Homo sapiens: one gene and its partner. The protein of the gene in region 1 interacts with the protein of each later gene in a pairwise test. Each region holds a gene or a part of one and is shown in the gene's direction. Other genes may lie near its edges.

Region 1 (8,503 bases):
ATGTTTGTTGTTTTAAGCTATGAAGCTTTGAAGTAATTTGTTATACAGCAATAGTAACTAATGCATGGTGGCAGCAAAGCATAGGGGTTTTAGAATTCAACCTGAGTTGGAATCCTAATTCTACACATTATTAACTTTTCCGTGTACAAATTCTTGAACTTCTCTGGGCCTCAGTTTCCACCTCTGTAAAATGGTGTTCATCACACCCATCTAGTTCAGAGAGCAGAGCTGAGCGACAGGAGCTGCTTCAGTGGGAGGATTCCCAGCTCTCCTTACTCTCGCGGGCTGGTATGATATGAATGGCACCATGTCATCCCATTTTGGTAGGGCTGCCCAGATTGCCAATGCCATGTTGCATGTAAAGGTTTGTCTGTGGTCTGCAGAATGTCCAGCAATTTCTAAACCATAAACATTTTCATGGGTGGGAACAAAACAGAATGTCGGAGTTCATTTCTGTGATTTGGTCCCATTGCCTGGTTTTCATTAGGCCAAACCTAATTTCTTTCCAATTCTGAATATAGGAATCAGTGCTGACTTTCATTTATTTAATAAACTTGTTATGTGCCCGGCTCTGTTCTAAGCCCTTACATTTACTGATTAATTTACTTCCCATTCCTATCCTATGATATTATATATATACGTATGTATATACATACACACACATATGTACACACACACATAAGTACATATACATATATAAGCACACACACTGTATTGTTTCCATTTTACATATGGAGAAACAGACATAGGCAGATTAAGTAGTCTGAGGTCACACAGCTAAGTAGTGGCAAAGCCCAGATTCAAATATGGCCAGTCTGGCTCCAGATTCTGCACTGTTAACCGCCAAGCTGTACATGTCTCCTTGTTGTCCCACAGCTGTAAATTTGTGTTTCTTCTCTTTGCATGTCTGACTACCTTCCTCAGGCAGCAAGAACAATCTAAGAGTGTTCCTGTACAATCAGTCTGGTGATGGTGAGAAACAATATAATGAGTGAGTGGAAGGGCTACCTTGGGCTTTGGGAAAAGACCTAGGTTCAGTTTCCAACTCCTGTGTACTGTTAGCAAATTACTTCCCCTCTTGGAACCTCAATTTCATCATCCGTAAAATGGGAACAATAATAAAAATACCTTTTGGCCATTAGGGGGAGCTCAAGGATGACTTATACCCCAAAAGGGGAAGGATTGCTTATGTGGATTCTCAGTTCTAGTCATTGGCAACGCTAAAGGGCAGAGCTTTCCCCTGTTGTGGGCAAGGGTTTGCACGAGGGGGACTGGCCATCCCAGTTTTCCCAGGGATGAGGGGTTTCCTTGGATGCAGGACTTTCAGGGCTAGCGCTGGGACAGTTCTGGACAAACCAGGCCAGTTAGTCACCCAAGTTTGAGCCCTGAGCCTTGGGGGAAACCAGCCTTTTGGAACACTTGCCCTGATTTCTCCAGTGGGGCAGATATGAAGCAAGGGATATGGACACAGAATTTATTAGTAGAAAATGATTAAGGGCAGCAATCTTAGTATTGAGGGTTTTTTTATAGTAGCTTTATTGAAATAGAATTAACATTCACATACCATACAATTTATCCATTTGAAGTGTAAAATTCGATGAATTTTAGTATACTCACAGAGTTGTCCAACTATCACCACAATTAATTTTAGAACATGTTCATCATCCCCAAAAGAAACAGCATATCCTTTAGCTATCAACACCCACCTCTGCCCCCAATTCTCCCCATCACACCCAGCCCTAGGCAATCGCTAATCTGCTTTCTGTCTCTATGGTTTTGCCTTCTGGACATTTCCCATGAATTGGATCATATGATACGGTTTCTCCTCTTATACTAAGTAAAGGAAACGAGTACAAAAGACCACATATCATATGTTTTGTACTCGTTTCCTCTACTTAGCATAAGAGGAGAAACTTCTTCAAGGTTCGTTCATGTTATAGCCTGTATCGGTACTTCATTCGTTTTTTGCTGAATAATATTTTTTTGTACAGATATACCATAGTTTGTTCATTCATCAGTTGTAGACATTTGAGTTGTTTCTACTTTTTAGCTGTTGTGAGTAATGCTGCCATGAGCAATCATGTACAAAGTTTTTGTGTGAACATGTGTTTCATTTCTCTTGGAGTATACACTGAAGAGTGGAATAGTGGAGTTTCTGGGCCATATGATTACTCTGTGTTTAACCTTTTGAGGAAGTGTAAGACCATTTTCCAAAGTGACTGCACCATTTTACAGTCCCCAGAAGCAATGTATAAGGGTTTCAATTTCTCCACATCTGCACCAACATTTGTTTAAAAAAAAAAAGAGACAGAGAGATGGGGGTCTCTGCTCTTTTACCCAGGCTGGAGTACAGTGGTGTAATCATGGCTCACTGTAGCCTCAAACTCCTGGGCTCAACTGATCTTCCCACTTCAGCCTCCTGAGTAGCTGGGACTACAAGCATGCACAACCATACCCAGCTAATTTGATTTTATTTGTTTTAGAGACAAAAAATATGTTTTGTCTCTAAAACATATGTTTGCTATGTTGCTCAGGCTGGTCTCAAACTCCTGGCCTCAAACGATCCTCCTGCCTCAGCCTTCTGAGTAGCTGGGATTACAGATGGGAGCCACTGCATCTGGCTCTGCCTTTTTGATTATAGTGATCCTAGTGGGTATGAAGTAGTATCTCATTGTGAGCCGTCTTGTTTTGAAGTTGCATTGGTATATCAAACACATTTTGTAACTGGTTCTGTCTTTTTGATTATAGCAATCTTAGCGGGTATGAAGTGGTATCTCATTGTGAGCAGTCTTGTTTTTAAGGTGCATTTGCATAGCAAACACATTTTGTCACTTACGCTACTTTGGTTCATTTGAGGTAACTGATGAAGGTTATGGAAGCTTAAATAAACTCCTATTCTCCCCTTTGGTTTCACTACTAAGTCCTGGCTGCCTTCTTTGTCAGAGGAATGCCTGCAGGAGGTGGATTAGGCCCAGGGTCCTGCAGTCCTTTAAGGAGAGCCCTTGCCACCCTCCTGTTATTCCCCTAGTTTCCCTTTTCCTCACCTTTGTCTCAGTCCAGAGATGAGGGTGGGTTGCAGGGGGAAAGGGCTGATCAATCTTTTTGACTTTATGCCCCCTTTGTGGCTTTGACGTGGCCTGATCAGCTCACCAGTCGTCTTAGTCCATATGGGCTAATATAACAAAATACCATAAACTGGGTGGCTTTATCAACAACAGAAATGTGTTGCTCATAGTTCTGGAGGCTGGGAAGTCCAAGACCAAGGCATTGGCAGATTCTATGTTTGATGAGGACGGTTTCCTGGTTCACAGATGGTGTCTTCTCACTGTGTCCTCAAATGGTGGCTGTGGGCAAGGGAGCTCTCTTGGGCCTCTTTATAAGGGCACTAATCCCATTCATGAGGGCTCCACACTCATGACCTAATCACCCCCCATAGGTCCCACCTCCAAATACCATCACCTGGGGGTGAAGATTTCAGCATATGAATTTGTGGGGGACGCATACACTCAGACCGTAGCGCAAGTTGGGGACAAAAGCTCTGAGTGTCAGCAGGGTTGCACTGGCTTGGAAATGCTGGAAATCTGGAAATTTCCAGATCAGGCATCACAAACTGCATGATCTAGGGCTCACATTGCATTAACAATGTTGTGTTTGGTCCACAGTGTTTCAAAATTGGAAAACTCGACATAAAAAATCCAGCCTTCTGGCTTTTCTTTAAAAATGTGCAGGCCCAACCATGCTGTTTCCACCTTTCTGCATTGCAGTATTTGGCTGAGGCTGAGCCCTGGCTGCCCTCTGAAGACTGGTGTGAGCTTTCAAATCCCCACAGTTCCCGCCACACACTGTTGCATCACAGTGGGCCCTCTCCACACATTTGTCACCTGTCTCATACTTGAGAATATTTATTAGTGCCCAATTCCTTCAGGGACCTAACAGGGTGAACTTAGGCCATAGTAGGTAACAGGGCTAAATACAGACACTTGGGATCCTGGCTTTCCAGCCATCCCCATACCATCTCCTCATGAGTACAAGCAAGTTTCAGGTGTAATGTGGGCATCTAATTTGTGATTTGTGGTTCTTGATCACTTTTATGGGCCAGCCACTGTTCTAAGAGTTTTGCATATATTAATTCATTTAATCCTCCTAGGAACCCAATCATAATCCCGGTTTACAGATGGGAAAACTAACACCCAGAGAAAACACTTGCTCACAGTCCATGGGTAATAGTTGCAGAGTCAGAATTTGAAGTCAGGAGCGAATGAGGTCATTTTGCAAGGTTGCTCATGACCTAGTGTCTGGTTCATTATGGGGGTTCAGTGGGTGCAAGCTTTATAATATTCATCTAGTCTTGCCAACTGCTGCTAACGTGCTGCATGGCTGAGGTTTAGTCCCAGCCAGATGTCCCATCACAAAAGTTAGGCATTGAAGTGGATGACATTTGTGTTTAGAGAAATGATATGTCTCATTCTTTTCAGCTCTAACTTGGGGTAAGTTTCTGAAAGCAAGTAAGAGAAAAGGAGAGGGACATTTGTGATCTCTCATGTATAGAAGACTAACAAAGAGGCAGGTGGTCACACCTGAAGGCACGTCCCCTGACCCTTATTACATAATGCCATGGGCTAAATGTCCAAAATTCCTCTCCCAGCTCTGATTGGCCTGGCTACTATGATGAGTGAAGTCCACCAGGGAAGACACTGTGGCCTCGTTTCTCATCCTCCTGTCCCCAGGAGTAACACAGAAGCAGCTAGTAACACAACAGCATTGTCCTCACATACACAGGCCTGCTTTGTTTCCCCACCACACAGAGCAGCCGCTGTAACAATGGCCCCGAATGACACTTTACCCTCCTTTCTCCAATGTTGCACTTGTTTTTTTAGTCTGGAATGGGCTAAACAATGATTTCCTGCAGGGGGTATCAGCTTTTTATATTTTCTGCCTGCTTCTCTGTCAGTCTTCAGGCCCCAGGTCAGTGAGTGGCAAGCCAGGCCCAGAGATCTCTGCGCCCGTTGGAACATCCCCTTCTCGGGAGGCTGGAAGGCCATGGTCATTCACCTCTCCCCAGCAAGGTGGGACCTGCCCTGGAAGAAGAAACCAGACCAGGTAACACAAGAGAGACAATGAGAGCTTGGGGCTAGGGGGTGGGGTTGCAGGGGATGGCTGAGTATCCAGCCCAAGGAGGATGGGTTTCTGGCTTCAAGACATCCGATTTTCTTGAAAGCCACCATCTGCTGTTAAATAAATAATGAAAAGCAACAGAGGTCAAGTTCAGCAGCCTCCCAGTTAGAAAAATACCCTCTGTCTGTCTGGCCCTGTTCAGTGCCTCTGATATCTCTGGGTGACCAGGGTCTTCATGGCCCATGTAGATTTACTGAGGTGGCTGTTGCCTTAATAATAGCTGCTAGTACTAAGCTCTTTCTCTATGTATTGCATATGTATACCTATTACTGTATGTCTCTCATTGAATGAATAGTAATGATAGCAAACCCTTATACAACATGCCTCAGATTCTTGCTTCTTTCAAACCCAGGGAGTCGGGTTCTAGAATCTGCGCTTTTCGTCATCATGCCCCTTGTAAAGCATTTTTTTTTACAACATCCTGCTAATAAACCAAGGTCATCACAATATTTCACTTTGAGAGGCAATGATATATGATGATAGCTATGTGTATTGTGAGTCCTTTGCCCTGTGCCAGGCAGCATTCTAACTGTTTTGCAGCTATTTCATCAGATAGATACTTTATGATCTCTATTTTATGGATGAGGAAATTGAAGTACGGATAATTTAAGTCATTCACCCGGGGTCACACAGTTGTTAAATGGCAGAGCCTGGATTTGAATTCAGTTTTCTCTTAAGTAGTATGGGAATCTTAGACCCGCCCAGCCCTGCTGGTCTGGAGTTATTCTGCTTCTCTAGGTCATGGTGTATAGAGGGTGACATTCAGTTTCTGGCTTCATAGAACATCTGCACCCAAGTTGACAGCTTAAGGAATTTTTTCGTTTGTTTATTTTAAATGATTTTTCTATTGGCATCAGCTTTTGTCTTGCTTGAAGAAGATGGAATTGCTCAATGACGACAGTGAAGGAATTTGAAAGGGTAAGAATTGCTCAATGAGTGGTATCTCTTTTTTGGCCAGAGACCAGGCTAAGTTGCCTCATATGTAAGAGAACATACGTCAAATACACAGGACTCATGGTATATTATGGAAGCAAACTTTATTTTTGCCTATCATTGTCCCTAATTTTTTTCAGCAGGTCCTCCCTCTTCCCTTGCCCTGGGATGAAAATTAAGGTAGGTCCACAACTCTTATGGGCCCCCTTCAGGAATCAAAAGTTCTTAAGTCGCTTTTAGTTCCAGCACAGCCTCATTCAGCAATTGGGATGTCCAGTCCCAGGGAATCAGCCAGATCTTTGAATTTGGTTCCCAGTGGAGACTTTTCTCCCTCCTCCAGTGGGGCCTGCAGCTTGGAAAGGGGGTCTGTGGTTGGCTTCTCATTTCCCACGTTAAGCTTCCATCCTTCTCTCCTCTGGCTTACTGATGATTCTGACTCCTGGCAGGGGGAAGGGGAAAAGAGAAGAGGCAGGAAAGGAGCTGGAAGTCCGTACTTGGTTAATGCTGTGGCAAGCTGGCATTTCAGTGGCAGGTTCTGGTGGGTGTGTAAACCTAGTTCTTTCTCTCTAGGCACAATCTTGTGGATACTTCAGAGAGCACCATTATTTCTCATCTTTGGGGATCTCTGAGTTGCTGGTCCCTTGAAGCTGGTTGCCTAATAAGACTCCTTCCTTAGTTCCCTGGCATCTAAGCAGTGCCGTATTAGTTTGCTGGGACTGCCATGACAAAATATCACAGACTGAGGGGCTTAAACCAGCAGTCCCCAATTTTTTTGGTACCAGAGACCAGTTTTGTAGATGACACTTTTTTCCACAGACCAGGGTAGGGATGGTTTCAGGATGATTCAAGTGCATTACATTTATTGAGAACCTTATTTATATTATTATTACATTGTAATATATAATGAAATAATTACACAATTCACCACAGTGTAGAATCAGTGGGAGCCCTAAACTTGTTTTCCTCCAATTAGACAGTCCCATATGGGGGTGATGGGAACCAGTGACAGATCATCAGGCATTAGATTCTCATAAGGAGCATGCAAACTAGACCCCTCACATGCGCAGTTCACAATAGGGTTTGTGCTCCTATGAGAATCTAATGCTGCTGCTGATCTGACAGGAGGTGGAGCTCAGGTGGTAATGTGAATGATTGGGAGCAGCTGTAAATATGGATGAAGCTTCGTGCTCTCTCTGTCCCTGCTGTGTGGCCTGGTTCCTAACAGACCACAGACCAGTACTGGTCCATGGCCCGGGAGTTGGGGGCCCCGGGCTTAAACAACAGAACTTAATTTTCTCCCAGTTCTGGAGGTTAAAAGTCCAAGATCAAGGTGTTGGAAGGTTTGTTTTCTCCTGAGGTCTCTGTCCTTGGCTTGTGGATGGCCACCTTCTCACTGAGTTCTCACATGGTCTTTCCTCTGTGTGTGCATTCCTGGTGTCTCTTGGCATGTGCAAATGTCCTCTTCTTATAAGGACAGCAGTCAGAGAGGATTAAGGCCTACCCTAAGGGGTTCATTTTAACTTAATCACATTTTTAAAGGTCCTGCTTCTAAATGCAGTCACATTCTAAGGTCCTGGGGGTTAGGGCTTCATCATATAAATTTTGGGAGGATAGTTGAGGCCACAACAAGTGCTGTCAGCTTTTCTCTGAAGGTAAATTTCCATTCCTCCTGGTGGTCCTTGTCAGAAGGACCTACACATCCCAGAGGTTGGCCACAGTACATCTCTGGCTTATGGAAAATGCTCGTTTCATTATCCCAGGAAATCCAAAGCTACCACGTTCTCTCCACTCCAGCTGATCACTCCATCTCTCTTGTATTTTGGGATTCACAGACATGATTCAGACATCAGCCCTCAGTGACAGTCAACCTCCAGGGACACAGCATCTTGGAGGCCAATCTTGGAGGGTGGGTAGTGGGCAATTGGGACTTGGAGTGCTCCTATTGCTTTCTCCAAAATTCCTCCTCTACACCACCAACTGTTCTTCTCACCCAGCTTTCTTTGTGGGCTGAAGATGGTCAGTTAAGAGGGAAACCAGTTTCGTGCCACTTCTTTTGTCAGCCCTGCATGATGGCCTCAGTGTCACAGCTCACTTTGAAACATGTCTTTTGTCCTTGGCAATACCTGAACTGAGACCATAGTCATTTTTACATCCTGCTACACAAATAGCATCTCATTTAGTTTTCATAAAGAACCCTAGGAGTTCTTCTGCATATGGAAGAGGAATCTGGAGCTCAGAAAGGTTAACGAATTCACCCAAAAGAGATTATTCAGCGAGTGGCGGGGAGGGGAGTAGAGATTCAAGCTTTAACCCACTTCATTATTTACTTCTCTGGGCCTTCATCATCCAGGCTTCTTAGAGCTTTTACCTACTGGAGTTTGGTCTGTGCTGCTAA
Region 2 (4,413 bases), on another chromosome or scaffold:
TCCTGGGGTCTCCAAAGGGCTTGGGGTCGGGGAGTGGGGGAGCAAGACCATCGAGGGCAGGCTTCTTGCCTCCTACAGTCCCAGGTGTCCTTTTTGACGCTTCCTCTTCAAAACCCCTTTTGACCGGCTGTGGTGGCTCTTGCCTTTAATCCCAGCACTTTGGGAGGCCAAGGCAGGCGGATAAGTTGAGGTCAGGAATTTGAGACCAGCCTGGCCAACATGGTGAAACCCCATCTCTACTAAAAATATAAAAGTTAGCCAGGTGTGGTGGCAGGCACCTGTAGTCCCAGCTACTCGAGAGGCTGAGGCAGGGGAATCACTTGAACCCGGGAGGTGAAGGTTGCAGTGAGCTGAGATTGCACCACTGCACTCCAGCCTGGGCGACAGAATGGGACTCTGTCTCAAAAAAAACAAAACTCGCCAGGCACAGTAATCCTATAATCCTGTAATCCCAGCACTTTGGGAGGCCGAGGTGGGTGGATCACGAGGTCAGGAGTTCAAGACTAGCTTGGCCAAGATGGTGAAACCCCATCTGTACTAAAAACACAAAAATTAGCTGGGCGTGGGGGAGGGCACCTGTAATTCCAGCTACTCAGGAGGCTGAGGCAGAGAATTGCTTGAACCTGGGAGGCAGAGGTTGCAGTGAGCTGAGACTGTGCCACTGCACTCCAGTCTGGGTGAGACTGTGTCTCAAAAAACAAACAAACAAACAAATAAACAAACAAACAAACCATTTCACTGAAGACCAGTGCATTCCAGTCCTGCCTGAAACCTTCTATTTGCACCCTGGGCCACACAACTGAGCTGGGCACGGGGTTGAAAGGAGGTGGTCTCCTGGCTTCTGAACACCCTTGAGTAAGGCAGTTGGCCTTCAGCCTCCATTTACACATCTGTCCAGTGGGGTCTTGTCCAGTCCAAGTCCTCCTGGGCATGATGTGAGGGTTTGAGGAGAGGACATTGGTAACAGCGTCTTTCAAATGCCAGCTCCACCATCCCTCTCTCCCCTGCAGAGAACACAAACGCTTCAGGAGAAATTCAAGCCTGTGTCACCCGATCGCTCAGACCAGTGCGGCTCTGGCTGGAGGAGTCAGCAGCAGCTCCAGGCATGACCCCGGCACCCTCATAGGGCCCCTCACTACCCCCAGCACTGGGTCATTTCTTGCCAATAGGAAGGCTGGTGCTTCTCTCCCAGGCTGTCCTCGGGACCCTCTTCATTCTCTGATCTCATCCTGGAATGCATGAGAATAAAGAATAACCAAGTGGTATAAGCCTGGGCCTATGGGATAAGGATGGGGCACTCGAGGGGGCTCAGCAGGGCTTTCAGGTTTAGAAGAGGGAAGACCTGCCTTGGCTGGGCTGCCTGGGTTTAGCTTGGGGGAGTAAGGGCAGGTCTTAGGCCGGGTGCAGTGGCTCATTCCTGTAATCCCAGAACTTGGGAGGCCAAGGTAAGAGGACTGCCTGAGGCCAGGAGTTCGAGACCAGCTTAGGCAACATAGCAAGACCCTGACTCTACAAAAAAAAATTTTAAAATATAAAAGAAAGGAAAAGAAAAAGAGAAAGAAATGGCAGGTCCCCTGTGAGATAACCCAGATGACCCAGAGAGAAGGCCTGTATCCTGCCACACTGGCTGCCAAGATTGGAGATCATAAAATTTCCTGACCACTTCTCAGCCTAACACAGGGCTCTCAACCTTGAAATCCCATGGAAACTTTGCAAAGCTGTGGAAGCCCAGGTCCCATGCCCAGAGATTCACAGGTTCACATCTAATTCATCTGGGGTGAGGCCTGAGCTTTCAGAAAATTCCCCAGGTGATTTTTTTTTTTTAAGACGTAGTCTCCCTCTATTGCCCAGGCTGGAATGCAGTGGCGCGATCTCAGCTCACTGCAACCTCTGCCTCCCATGTTCAAGCGATTCTCCTACCTCAGCCTCCTGAGTAGCTGGGATTACAGGCGCATGCCACTGAGCCCAGCTAATTTTTGTATTTTTAGTAGAGATGGGGTATCACCATGTTGGTCAGGCTGGTCTTGAACTCCTGACCTCGTGATCTGCCCCGCTCAGTCTCCTAAAGTGCTGGGATTACAGGTGTGAGCCATCGAGCCTGGCCTTTTTTTTTTTTTTTTTTTTTTTTTTGAGACAGAGTCTTGCTCTGTCACCCAGGCTGGAGTGCAGTGGCACAATCTCGGCTCACTGCAACCTCGCCTCCCTGGTTCAAGCGATTATCCTGCCTCAGCCTCCCAAGTAGCTGGGATTACAGGCACCTGCCACCAAGGCTAATTTTTTGTATTTTTAGTAGAGACAGGGTTTCACCATGTTGGCCAGGACGGTCTCGATCTCCTGACCTCGTGATCTGCCCGCCTTGGACTCCCAAAGTGCTGGGATTACAGGTGTGAGCCACTGCTCCCAGCCAAGATCAGATGTTCTTGCATAATGGGCAGGTGAGCTCTGGAGTCACAGTGCCTGGGCGTGAATCTCGGAGCTGTGTGTTCTCAGGAATGTCACCCAAACTCTGTTCTGTTGGTCTCCTCACTTGCAATATGGGGCATTAACAGTACTTACCACCTGGGGTTACTGTGGTTAGTTACTGTGAGGATGAGATAAGGCGGTGGTTTTAAACTGTGGGTAGGATTTTGTCCTCCCTCAGCCCCACTCTTTCTTGGGGACATTTGGCAATGTATGACATTTTTGATGTCACAACAGGCAGGAAGAAGGCTACTGGCATTGAGTGAGTAGAGACCAGGGATGCGGTTAAGCATAGTGCAATATCACCATGCTACAAAAAAAAAAAAAAAAAAGAATTCAGCACCTGTAATCCCAACTACTTGGGAGGCTGAGGCAGGAGAATTGCTTGAACCTGGGTGGCAGAGGTTGCAGTGAGCCGAGATTGCGCCATTGCACTCCAGCCTGGGCGACAGAGCGAGACACCATCTCCAAAAAAAAAAAAAAAAAAAATGTTGAGAAACCCTGAAATACCACGATTCTAGCTAAGACCTCAGCAAGAGGCACATAGCACATAGTAAAGCCTCAATAAACACCACTGACCTTACTGAGGTTCTCTCTGCCCCCTAAGTCATAAGTAGGGTGGCCTCACCAAGGGTGTGGTTCTCAGTCTGTACCTCTGGCACTGGGAAGCCCCGCCTGGCCACCCTAGGATGCAGAATTAATCATAACTTCCAGATATGGAGCACTCACTCTATTCCAGGCCGTGTGCTGACAGCTTCGCAGCAAGCATTCTCTCCTGGCACTCCCCGACAACAGTGAGGTGTCTTGCTATTACTGCCATTTTAGAGGAGGAAACAGGTTCAGGGAGGATCACAAGTCATCAAGCTAGTACTGTGCTTAAACTTAGGTCTAGCTGTTCTTAATGTGCAGAAGAGTGTAAAGGGTTACCATTTTTAAAGAAAAAGTGGGGGCAGGGCATGGTGGCTCATGCCTGTAATCCTAGCACTTTGAGAGGCCGAGGCAGGCGGATCAAGAGGTCAGGAGTTCGAGACCAGCCTGACCAACATGGTGAAACCCTGTCTCTACTAAAAATACAAAAATTAGCTGGGTGTGGTGGAGTGCATCTATAATCCCAGCTACTCAGGAGGCTGAGGCAGGAGAATCACTTGAACCCAGGAGGCGGAGGTAGTGGTGAGCCAAGATCACGCCGAGCCGAGATCGTGCCGCTGCTCTCCAGCCTGGGCAACAGAGCGAGACTCCATCTCAAAAAAAAAAAAAATGTTGGAAGAGGGTGTGCTTGTTTATGTACAAAATGTCGCTAGATTTAAACACAATAAACTGGCAAAGATGGTTGTCTCTGGGGAGAATTGGGGACTTGGGAACAGGAGCTGAAGAACAACTTTTCAGTGTTGTGTTTGGAACCATGTGAATGTATTATGTATTCAAAATGTAAATAAAAATGAAGTTAAAGAGACTGTGCTCCTAACTAGGAGTGTTTGTCTAAGTTGCCTGGGTGTGAGAGCACCTGGGGTGCTTGTTAGAAATAGATTCCAAAGACACACCCAGACCTACTTAAATCAGAATCCTCCAAGGGCTTCGAAACCTGCATTTGACAAGCCTGGCTGATGAGTCGAGTCCCGGCCAGTTTAGGAACAAGAACCCAAGACAACAGGATCCTAGCCCAGAAATAATTCCAGCTGGATCTTGCATCCCTACAGAAGTAGGGAGGTGGCTGTCCTAGGGGAATACGTAAAAGATGTCCAGGACGGCCGGGTGCGGTAGCTCACGCCTGTAATCCCAGCACTTTGGGAGGCTGAGGCAGGTGGATCACCTGAGGTCAGGAGTTGGAAACCAGCCTGGCCAGTGTGGTGAAAGCCCATCTCTGCTAAAAATACAAAAATTAGCCGGGCGTGGTGGCTCATGCCTGTAGTCCCAGCTACTCGGGAGGCCGAGGCAGGAGAATCCCTTGAACCC

Evidence for each region. The genes of interacting proteins can lie anywhere in the genome.
Region 2: the proteins of PRR5L (region 1) and MORN3 interact in binary tests that used the Homo sapiens proteins (3 or more experiments, as listed by UniProt).

Annotation. Positions count from the first base shown.
Region 1 is NC_000011.10:36,291,339-36,299,841, forward strand, and holds the start of PRR5L (proline-rich protein 5-like), read left to right. Parts: upstream 1-4,949; 5' UTR 4,950-5,100; intron 5,101-8,503. UniProt on the Homo sapiens protein: Associates with the mTORC2 complex that regulates cellular processes including survival and organization of the cytoskeleton.
Region 2 is NC_000012.12:121,648,242-121,652,654, reverse strand, and holds the end of MORN3 (MORN repeat-containing protein 3), read left to right. Parts: intron 1-1,010; 3' UTR 1,011-3,913; downstream 3,914-4,413. UniProt on the Homo sapiens protein: Assembles a suppression complex (suppresome) by tethering SIRT1 and MDM2 to regulate composite modifications of p53/TP53.